3 linked regions of the Homo sapiens genome follow. The protein of the gene in region 1 interacts with the protein of each later gene in a biochemical or structural test. Each region holds a gene or a part of one and is shown on either strand. Other genes may lie near its edges. The genes, in order: MAP3K11, LATS1 and MAP4K1.

Region 1 (3,750 bases):
CCACTTGGGCAGGGATGGGGAACCCCTCATTAAGGACAAGGGACTCTAGGATGGGCTCTCACAAGCCCTGATTTTGTCAGATCCCTCCTTGGCTCTAGAAACTGCTGTGGCTCTCCACTGTCACTAGGAGAAAGTCTGGCCTCCTTGGCTGGTCCTCTGAAGCCCTCCCTGGCCTTGTCCCTCTGCCTTTCCCCTCCTGCCTGGAGTGCAGCAGCAGGTTGGATGTCGGGAGGGAGAAATACAAGGCTGGGAAAAATGAGCTTCTACTATGAACCAGGACTTAGCTCACAGTCCCTTCTGTCAGCCCCAACCCTTACTCAGACTCTCTGCCTCTTACCTCACCCAACTCCCACCCCGGCCACTGCCACTGAAGGGACAAGGGAATCCTTCTAAAATGCAAACCTGTTAAAGACAGGTCTCTGCTTAAAAACTACCCATCACTTCCAGCTTCATTCACTCATTCATTCAATCAACATCTACTGACCCATGTGCCTTGGCCCCTGTCCGCAGCCCCAGTCCTGAGACTCCTCGGCTCTCAACTCTTCTCGGAGTTCAGCCAGGTTGCCTTTTCCTTGGGTATGGTGAGCTGCATGCCTGCGCACACACTATTCACTCTGGGTGGCTGACCTTTCCCACCTTGGCTTTCAGTGACCTCTTATGCACCATCCAAGACCAACTGGGATGTCACTTCCTCTGTGAAGCCCTCCCAGAATCTCCCTGAACCTACACAGTTATTGCTCACGTTATGCCTCATAGAGGTGCTACTGGACTTGTTTATGAGTCTGCCTGCTTCATCATATGAGGTCAGGGCAGTGTTTAACATGTTGATGCCTGGCTCTTAAAATGCAAATCCCTGGGCCAGGCGCGGTGGCTCACATCTGCAATCCCAGCACTTTGGGAGGCCCAGGTGGGATGATCACGAGGTCAGGAGATCGAGACCATCCTGGCTAACACGGTGAAACCCTGTCTCTACTAAAAACACAAAAAATTAGCCAGGCGTGGTGGTGGGCGCCTGTAGTCCCAGATACTCAAGAGGCTGAGGCAGGAGAATGGCATGAACCCAGGAGGCGGAGCTTGCAGTGAGCCAAAATCACACCACTGCACTCCAGCCTGGGCAACAGAGCGAGACTCCGTCTCAAAAAAAAAAAAAAGCAAATTCTTGTTTGATGAAGAATCCATTTTTATAATCCTTGCACCAACCACGAGGTTATCATATCACCCCCACTTCGCAGGTGAAGAACTGATCATTTACAGTGAGTTTAAACAGAAGAGGGGAAATCATGTTTAAAAAAAAGAAAGAGTTGGCCGGGTGCGGTGGCTCACACCTGTAATCCCAGCACTTTGGGAGGCCAAGGTGGGCGGATCACGAGGTCAAGAAATCGAGACCATCCTGGCCAACATGGTGAAACCCTGTCTCTACTAAAAAATACAAAAATTAGCAGGGCATGGTGGCACGCACCTGTAGTCTCAGCTACTTGGGAGGCTGAGGCAGGAGAATCGCTTGAACCCAGGAGGCGGAGGTTACAGTGAGCCGAGATCCCGCCACTGCGCTCCAGCCTGGGTGACAGAGTGAGACTCCATCTCAAAAAAAAAAAAAAAAAAAGCAAGAGAGGCTGGGAGTGGTGGCTCAAGCCTATAATCCCAGCACTTTGGGAGGCCAAGTAGGGCAGATCACTTGAGGTCAGGAGTGCATGACTAGCCTGGCCAACATGGTCAAACCCTGTCTCTACTAAATACAAAAATTAGGCCGGGCATGGTGGTTCACGCTTGTAATCCCAGCACTTTGGGAAGCTGAAGCAGGTGGCTCACTTGAGGTCAGGAGTTCGGGACCAGCCTGGTCAACATGGTGAAACCTCATCTCTACTACAAATACAAACATTAGCCGGGCATTGTGGCACATGCCTGTAATCCCTGCTACTTGGGAGGCTGAGGCAGGAGAATCACTTGAACCTGGGAGGTGGAGGTTGTAGTGAGCCGAGATTGCACCACTGCCCTCCAGCCTGGGCAACAGAATGACACTTCATCTCAAAAAAAAAAAAATTAGCTGGGCATGGTGGCACATGCCTGTAATCCCAGCTACTGGGGAGGCTGAGGGAGAATTGCTTGAACGTGGGAGGTGGAGGCTGAAGTGAGCTGAGGTCGCACCACTGCACTCCAGCCTGGGTGACAGAACAAGACTCCTTCTAAAAAAAAAAAAAGAAAATAGCAAGAGCAAGCTGGGTGTGGTGGCTCACACCTGTAATGCCAGCACTTTGGGAGGCTGGGGTGGGTGGACTACTTAAGCGCAGCCCAGCCTGGGCAACATGGCAAAACCCCATCTCTACAAAAAATATAAAAATTAGCCAAGCATGGCATGCACCTGTAGTCCCTGCTACTCAGGAAGCTGAGGTGGGAGGATCACTTGAGCCTGGGAGGCAGAGTTTGCAGTGAGCCATGATCATGCCATTGCAGTCCAGCCTGGGTAACAGAATGAGACTCTATCTTTAAAAAAATAAAAGACAGAAATGAGACAAAGGGAAGAGAAGATAGGGTCCAGCAGACAAAATGAGAGTGAACAGAAGTTCCTGCAGTCAATGGCCTGAGAAACTGAGGTTCTGAAGGGTAAGGGACTTGGTCAACATAATCCAGCTAGGATTTGAATCTGCCTCTAAGCTTCCTGGCAGCAAGAGTTAGCAACTCTGTTGTTTAGGAGAAAGCTGCGTGACTATTCTTGACCCAAAGATAGATAGATAGAGGCGAAACTGCTTCCGTGAGGTCTCACAGGGAGGACACAGCCACGTAGTTATTGGCTCTAAGGCAACAAGCTTCACAGGGCAGTTGCTATCAGCGTAGCTGAGTGCACCCTGCCAATGTGCCACTCCTTGCAGCCAGCTCTCCAGGGACCAGAACAGCCCACTGGGGACAGGGTGAGGGTGTGTGTGACTCTCCAGTGGTATGGCTTATGCCGGGGACCATCTCACAGGGTCTGGGACCTCTGTGAAGCCCCATTATTTGATTCTTAGCTGGGTTTCGGGGGGTGGCTGTGAGGTCAATGTCATGTACTTTCATGGACCCAGATGATGCGTGGAGTGTGGGATTGGGCTAGGGGAACCAGATGCTCAGCCAGCCACTGAGCTGGGCAGCTGACATCCTTTCAGGGCAAGTGGCAATCCATTTCTTCATCAGCCAGGAAGGGCACTGGTGTTGAGGCCGACATACTTATCAAGAACAGTAACTACCATGGTTTCCAGTGCTTTCATGAAACCTCAGACATGTGGCCTTCTGGCCACACATCTGCAATTTCATATTGTGGGAGCATTCACTGTATCCCTGGGGGCTGCGGCTCTCTCAGTTTGCAGGGGCTGGACCAAGAAAGAAGGCATTTCAGATTTCTATGGGCACAGATGTCTACAGAAGTTATGATGCCATGAAATACTTCGAGGAGATGAGGAAGGCTGCTATCTCTCAGAATGCAAAGTGATTTTGGAATATGAAGAATTTCTTTGGGTTGAATTACTTAGAAGTTTGTCACTGATCTGAACTATTCATGAATATATGGGCTAATAAGTAGTTTCTCTTCATAAATAATTAACAAATTCTTTGGATAAAAAAACATGGGGCAAGCTTGAGAACGATGGGGCCCAGGCCCCTTGTGCCCCTGCTTCTGGGAGCTGAGGGCCAGAGAGTTCTGTGGAACAGTCAGGACCTGCTTCAGCCTACACACCTGGGTTGACAGGCTCTCAAGTTCTCCTTTGGCCCATCTGGCCTGGT
Region 2 (3,750 bases), on another chromosome or scaffold:
ATCATGCCACCGCGCTCCAGCCTGGGCGACAGAGCAAGTCTCTGTCTCAAAAAAAAAAAAATAAAAATCTTGGAGATCTTGGTGAGGTTGCTACTTAATAAAGTTTAAAAACTTTTGCAGTAGGAGTAAACAGAAGAAGTAGTTGTGGTCTGGGAGTATAAGCGTATAAACCTTAAAGTAGTTATTCTGAAACAAGAGCAGATATGAGTAATACCAAAGTTTGAAATACAATCATGAGAATGATACTTGATGTGGAGTGGAAGAGGGGACGTCAAGAAGCTGAGATATGAGGGCAATAGATGGTTTATCCTCGTGGTTATTGAGGTTACAGGATGAAGGCAGGGCTTAGGGTAGACTGAATGCTGAAGCTGTGGCTGAATGAAATAGAGCAAATAGGCAGGAGCTCATTAGGTGAGAGGAATTAGTGTGGCCTCCCACATAGCATGAAGTTCAAAAGAGCTGGCTTTTTAAAAGGAATAATATCAACCTGTAAGAACAAATGTTAGAACCCCATCTTTAGGCCAGGTTATTTTTAAAGGAAACCTTAATTTCAAAGGGCTGAAAGGAAAGTAGTATCAGCAGAAGAAAACCAGCTTCAAGGAGGTGGCAGGAAAGCTTGGAGGAGAGGTTACTGATAAGGCACATTTGCTGGCTGTGGAGCCGAGTGGATCCGGAGGGCATGGTGGAAAGGTTCGGGAAGTGGAAGAACATGGAGAGCTCTGTGGGAGGCGCAGAACAACAGGGGTGACTGTATACTCTAAAAGCTGAATGAGTGACATGGTGTATTTGGCCTCAGCTGGCCTCTGAGGAAAGTGAGAAAGAGCCTGATGGCCAGAGGACTTGTCCAGTTTATCCGGAATGATAATGTTCCCCAAACATTATTTACTCACTTGCTTTTCGTCTGGCTCCTGCTTCGAGAATGTAGACCCAAAATGCTGTCCAGCCTAGATGAAAGGGAGTGTTAAACTGAACATTATGAACATTTACCACATTTTACCACTTTTTTTCTCAGATGTATTGTTAGATATATTTTTGCCCAGGATGATGTTGACCTTTCAAATTTATTAGTATTCTTTTTTGTTTTGTTTTTAATGGTAATGAGTGTTTGTATTTAGATCTCTACTTTTGTCATGCCTGGGAAGACATTCGCAAGAGGTACCCCAATACTATTGAATGGTCTTTTGTTTTTTTCTAGTGCTTACATGATTTCATCTTTAATATTTAAACCTTTAGTCTTTCTAGAATGTATATATGTATTGTCTTTATACCAGTGTATCTTGTATATTTTTCCTAAGTGGCTGGACTATTCTATTTTAAATACTTCTCTTTTTTTGGTATTGTATTTTTTTTTTTGCTTGTTTTATTGATTTGGAAATTCCGTTAAAGACAGTTTCTGTAAAATCTATACTTTATTTAATATTCAGCTAATTATAGCCTACTATCTTTTTCTGTTTTAAAAACCATATTAAAAGGCCAGGTGCAGTGGCTCACACCTGTAATCCCAGCACTTTGGAAGGCTTAGGAGGGCAGATCACTTGAGGTCGGGAGTTTAAGACCAGCCTCGCTAACATGGCGAAACCCCGTCTCTACTAAAAATACAAAAGTTAGCTGGGCGTGGTGGCGTGCGCCTGTAGTCCCAGCTACTCAGGAGGCTGAGGAAGGAGAATTACTTGAACCCGGGAGACGGAGGTTGCAGTGAGTCTGTGCCACTGCACTCCAGCCTGGGTGACAGAGTGAGACTTTGTCTCAATTTAAAAATATAGATATATATTAAAATATATTTAAAATCAGTAGAGCTATGAAAATTACAAATAGATACGCCCTTTGGCCTAATAATGCTACCTCTAATAATTTATCTACAAATATACATGCATATATATGAAATTATATCTCTTCAAAAATATATATATATTTTTTTTGAGATGGAGTCTTGCACTGTCACCCAGGCTGGAGTGCAGTGGCACGATCTCAGTTCACTGCAGCGTTGGCCTTCTTGGTTCATGCAATTCTCCTGCCTCAGCCTCCCGAGTGGCTGGGACTACAGGTGCACACCACCACGCCTGGCTAATTTTTTTGTATTTTTAGTAGAAATGGAGTTTCACCATGTTGGCCAGGCTGGTCTCGAACTCCTGGCCTCAAGTGATCTGCCTACCTCAGCCTCCCAAAGTGCTGGGATTACAGGCGTGAGCCACCACGCCTGGTCAAAAATAAATAAAATTCTAAAAGGTAAAAGGAAACCACTTAGTGAAATTTTATTTTTATAACTCTTTTTTTTCTTTTTTTGCTAAATTGAGCCAAATAACATGTATTATTACCTCACATATCATTTTTTTGTAGTGAGAATACTTCAAATTTACTCTCGGCAATTTTCAGGAGTACAATACGTTGTTATTAACTACAGTCACCATTTTGTACAAGAGATCACTTGAACTTTTTTATATTTTTATAATTCTTGAAAGAGAATTGAGTATCATTTGTAATATCAGAATTGCAAGCTAAGGTTTTCAAAAATTAGAGGTTAAAAACATGATTCTTTTTTCTCTTTATCTCTCTTATAACCATAGGGAATGTGCAGCAATCAGTTAACCGCAAACAGAGCTGGAAAGGTTCTAAAGAATCCTTAGTTCCTCAGAGGCATGGCCCGCCACTAGGAGAAAGTGTGGCCTATCATTCTGAGAGTCCCAACTCACAGACAGATGTAGGAAGACCTTTGTCTGGATCTGGTATATCAGCATTTGTTCAAGCTCACCCTAGCAACGGACAGAGAGTGAACCCCCCACCACCACCTCAAGTAAGGAGTGTTACTCCTCCACCACCTCCAAGAGGCCAGACTCCCCCTCCAAGAGGTACAACTCCACCTCCCCCTTCATGGGAACCAAACTCTCAAACAAAGCGCTATTCTGGAAACATGGAATACGTAATCTCCCGAATCTCTCCTGTCCCACCTGGGGCATGGCAAGAGGGCTATCCTCCACCACCTCTCAACACTTCCCCCATGAATCCTCCTAATCAAGGACAGAGAGGCATTAGTTCTGTTCCTGTTGGCAGACAACCAATCATCATGCAGAGTTCTAGCAAATTTAACTTTCCATCAGGGAGACCTGGAATGCAGAATGGTACTGGACAAACTGATTTCATGATACACCAAAATGTTGTCCCTGCTGGCACTGTGAATCGGCAGCCACCACCTCCATATCCTCTGACAGCAGCTAATGGACAAAGCCCTTCTGCTTTACAAACAGGGGGATCTGCTGCTCCTTCGTCATATACAAATGGAAGTATTCCTCAGTCTATGATGGTGCCAAACAGAAATAGTCATAACATGGAACTATATAACATTAGTGTACCTGGACTGCAAACAAATTGGCCTCAGTCATCTTCTGCTCCAGCCCAGTCATCCCCGAGCAGTGGGCATGAAATCCCTACATGGCAACCTAACATACCAGTGAGGTCAAATTCTTTTAATAACCCATTAGGAAATAGAGCAAGTCACTCTGCTAATTCTCAGCCTTCTGCTACAACAGTCACTGCAATTACACCAGCTCCTATTCAACAGCCTGTGAAAAGTATGCGTGTATTAAAACCAGAGCTACAGACTGCTTTAGCACCTACACACCCTTCTTGGATACCACAGCCAATTCAAACTGTTCAACCCAGTCCTTTTCCTGAGGGAACCGCTTCAAATGTGACTGTGATGCCACCTGTTGCTGAAGCTCCAAACTATCAAGGACCACCACCACCCTACCCAAA
Region 3 (3,750 bases), on another chromosome or scaffold:
TCCTCTGGCCTGGCCCCGCCCACTCTCTGCACACCCGTGAAGCTCTCTCTCACCCACACAGCACGCCCGGCAGCCTTTGGTGTCCTGGATCTTGGTGGAAACCATGTTCTTCCTGGAGAATAGGTAGGTGTGAAGGGGGGTAGGACAGCAGGAGGCAGAGGGGCATGGGAGGAATTATAAGGCTGTGTGGTGCCATTCATTGGGAGCTGGTACCTTGCCAGTAGGCGGTGGGGGCTAATGTGAGCGATGGGGTTTCCTGCTCTGGTCTCTTTCCGTTCCAGCAGGCCAAGGATGCTATGAGAATACAGGTGGGGGGTCTTTCCTGCAGGGTGTGTGTATGTAGGGGGAAGCAGGAAGTTATAGGATCCCATATACCACTTCCTTTCCTCCATCCCTTCCCTCAGCCCCATCCCTTTGTCTGAAACTCCCAAGCCTGCAAGTCTCAAGTACTTGTCATTCATTCATTCATTTCTCACTCCACATAGATTGAACGTCCATTGTAGGCCAGGCCTGCTGTGCTTGGCTCTGGTGAACAGTGATGAGCATAAAAAATATGTTCCCTACCCTCGTGGTATTTGTAGCCGTATCAGAAACTCTGGACACATAACCAGTCAGATGAAGTTACACATCTTACAAAGTTTTAGAAGAAACACATCTAGAAAATCTTCTAGTTTGTCATCACAGATGTGGCTTTCACTAACTCATGAATCCCATTTGGCTTGGTGTTTCCCCCAAAACTAGAAATTATTTCATTTATTTATTATTATTATTATTATTTTAGACAGTCTCGCTCTGTCACCCAGGCTGGAGTGCAGTGGTATAATCTTGGCTCACTGCAGCCTCTGCCTCCCAGGTTCAAGCAATTCTCATGCCTCAGCCTCCCAAGTAGCTGGGAGTAGAGGTATGCGCCACCATGCCTGGATAATTTTTGTATTTTTAGTAGAGACGGGGTTTTACCATGTTGGCCAGTCTGGTCTCGAACTACTGACCTCAGGTGATCTACCCGCCTCGGCCTCCCAAAGTGTTGGGATTACAGGTGTGAACCACCGCACCCGGCCTATTTATTGTTATATATAGACAGGGTCTCATTCTGTCTTCCAGGCTGGAGTGCAGTGGTGTGATCATGACTCACTGCAGCCTCTAACTTCTGGGCTCAAGTGATCCTCCCACCTCAGCCTCCCGAGTAGCTGGAACCATAGGTGTGTGCCACCACACCCAGCTAATTTTTTTTTAATTTTTAGTAGAGACGAGGTCTCACTATGTTGCCCAGGCTGATCTAGAACTCCTGGGCTCAAGCAGTACTACTGCCTTGGCCTCTCAAAGTGCTGGGATCACAGGCATGAGCCACTGCACCCCGTCCAGATTTTGAAATCTATAACTTGCTCACTCTATCTTAGTAAAGTATGGAATAAGTTCTGATTGTCATCTGAACATGAAAGCTATTTAAAGACTAACTTAGGGCTGGGCACGGTGGCTTACACCTGTAATCCCAGCACTTTGGGGGGCTGAGACGAGTGGATCACCAGGTCAGGAGTTCGAGACCAGCCTGGCCAACATGGCGAAACCCCGTCTCTACTAAAAACACAAAAAATTAGCCGCGTGTGGTGGCAGGTGCCTGTAATCCCAGCTACTTGGGAGGGTGAGGCAGGAGAATCGCTTGAACCTGGGAAACGGAGGTTGCAGTGAGCCGAGACTGCGCCACTGCACTCCAGTCTGGGCAACAGAGTGAGAGTCTATCTCAAAAAAAAAAAAAAAAAAAAAAAGGACTAATTTAGGCCAGGTGCGGTGGCCCACACCTGTAATCCCAGCACTTTGGGAGGCCAAGGCGGGTGGATCACCTGAGGTCAGGAGTTTGCGACCAGCCTGGCCAACATGGTAAAACCCCATCTCTACTAAAAATAAAAAATAAAAAAAGTAAAAAAAAAAAAAGCCAGTCATGATGGCTCACATCTGTAATACCAGCTACTCGGGAGGCTGAGGCACGAGAATTGCTTGAACCCAGGAAGTAGAGGTTGCAGTTAGCCAAGATCACGCCCCTGCACTCCAGCCTGGGCAACTGAGTGAGACTCGGTCTCAAAAAAAAAAAAAAAAAAAAAGGCTAATCTAAGGCCAGGTGTGGTGGCTCATGCCTGTAATCCCAGCATTTTGGGAGGCCAAGGCAGTTGGATCACCTGAGGTCAGGAGTTTGAGACCAGCCTGGCCAACAGGGTAAAACTCTGTCTCTACTAAAAATACAAAATTTAGCCAGGTGTGGTGGTGCACACCTGTAATTCCAGCTACTCAGGAGGCTGAGGCATGAGAATCACTTGAACCTGGGAGGCAGAGGTTGCCGTGAGCTGAGATTGTACCACTGCGCTCCAGCCTGAGTGACAGAGGGAGACTCTGTCTCAAAAAAAGAAAAAAAAAGACTAATTTATTGTAGAAACTACCTCAAAATTGACTTGAGAGGTGAGGACTATTGTGAACCCCATTTTACAAATGGAGAAATTGAGGCTTGGGGAGCACAGTCAAAAAGTGTCTGGGATTTGAACCTAGGACTTTGTGACCAAGCAGTCTAAGTTTTTTTTCAGCTGTGCCCGTCTACTTCCCAGCCCCCGAACCCTTGGACCCCTTAACTTCCGACCCCATCCCACCTGCTACCCACAGCCAGACCTGAGAGAGACATGAGAACGTTGTTGATGGAGTACACCCACGTAGTCCGGCTAGGAAAGAGCTGCAGGGAATGGGAGAGATGGCTCTGGTGACACCCCAGCAACCCCCGACTCCGGCCCTTGCCCTTGCCCTGGCCCGGTATGGTTCCTCACCATTTCCAGCGTGGCCTCCTGGTCATTCCGGTTCAGGATGAAGATGCCTTCCTCTGCCCCCAGGAGCAGGTGCTGGTCTGGAGGCACAGACAAGGACGCTGGGACCGACTTCATCCTCAGGGACCTCCCAGATCCCCACCTGTCTGACCTCAAACACTGACACTCTGTCCCCAGCTCTGACCCTCTATTCTTTCTCCAAACCAATACTCCCAGCCTCTGTTTCCCCAAACAAAGCCAGAGCGGACGGTCCCGCAAGCCAGTCTCACTCTCCCTCCTTTTGACTACCCATATTCTGGTGGTTCTTTCTTCTCTGCCCAACTGTCTTCTGAACCAAACTGACCCCAACCTTAGACCTGTCCCCCAAAATAGTCCTCTGATTTCCTCCCCTCTTTCTCCCCAGTTCTGATACCCTAATGCCAATCCTAACATTGACCTTCAAACTCAGACACCCCCAAACAGGACTTTTTCTGTCCAGTGTGACCTGTTCCTTTAACACTGACCTTGTCTTCATCTCTTTGATCTCTAGATTCTGTCCCTTTCTGGCTGCATCCTAATCTCTAAAATTCCTCACCCCAAAATGCTGCTCCCAGTCTCCCTATCATTAACCTCCAGCTGTCCATCTTTCTCGTGCTCCAAACTCTAACCTTTTTGTTATATTCTGACACTCCTGGCCCCTGAATTCCAATATTCCTACTTTCACTCTCCAACTCATCCCTCTACCCATTTTTTTTTTTTTTTTTTTTTTTTGAGACTGAGTCTTGCTCTGTTGCCCAGGCTGGAGTGCAGTGGCATGATCTCAGCTCACTGCAACTTCCGCCCCCTGGATTCAAGCAATTATCCTGCCTCAGCCTCCTGAGTAGCTGGGATTATAGGCACGTGCTACCACGCCTGGCTAATTTTTGTGTTTTTAGTAGAGACGAGGTTTTACCACGTTGGCCAGGCTGGT

What was found.
Region 2: the proteins of MAP3K11 (region 1) and LATS1 form a complex in vitro, tested with the Homo sapiens proteins (one study listed by BioGRID).
Region 3: of the proteins of MAP3K11 (region 1) and MAP4K1, one has a biochemical effect on the other in vitro, tested with the Homo sapiens proteins (one study listed by BioGRID).

What each region holds. Positions count from the first base shown.
Region 1 is NC_000011.10:65,600,619-65,604,368, forward strand, and holds part of MAP3K11 (mitogen-activated protein kinase kinase kinase 11), read right to left. Parts: intron 1-3,750. UniProt on the Homo sapiens protein: Activates the JUN N-terminal pathway. Required for serum-stimulated cell proliferation and for mitogen and cytokine activation of MAPK14 (p38), MAPK3 (ERK) and MAPK8 (JNK1) through phosphorylation and activation of MAP2K4/MKK4 and MAP2K7/MKK7.
Region 2 is NC_000006.12:149,683,407-149,687,156, reverse strand, and holds part of LATS1 (serine/threonine-protein kinase LATS1), read left to right. Parts: intron 1-2,564; coding exon 2,565-3,750. UniProt on the Homo sapiens protein: Negative regulator of YAP1 in the Hippo signaling pathway that plays a pivotal role in organ size control and tumor suppression by restricting proliferation and promoting apoptosis.
Region 3 is NC_000019.10:38,597,273-38,601,022, forward strand, and holds part of MAP4K1 (mitogen-activated protein kinase kinase kinase kinase 1), read right to left. Parts: intron 2,882-3,750; coding exon 2,805-2,881; intron 2,714-2,804; coding exon 2,653-2,713; intron 323-2,652; coding exon 214-322; intron 124-213; exon of another isoform or gene 113-123; coding exon 54-112; exon of another isoform or gene 1-53. UniProt on the Homo sapiens protein: Serine/threonine-protein kinase, which plays a role in the response to environmental stress. Appears to act upstream of the JUN N-terminal pathway.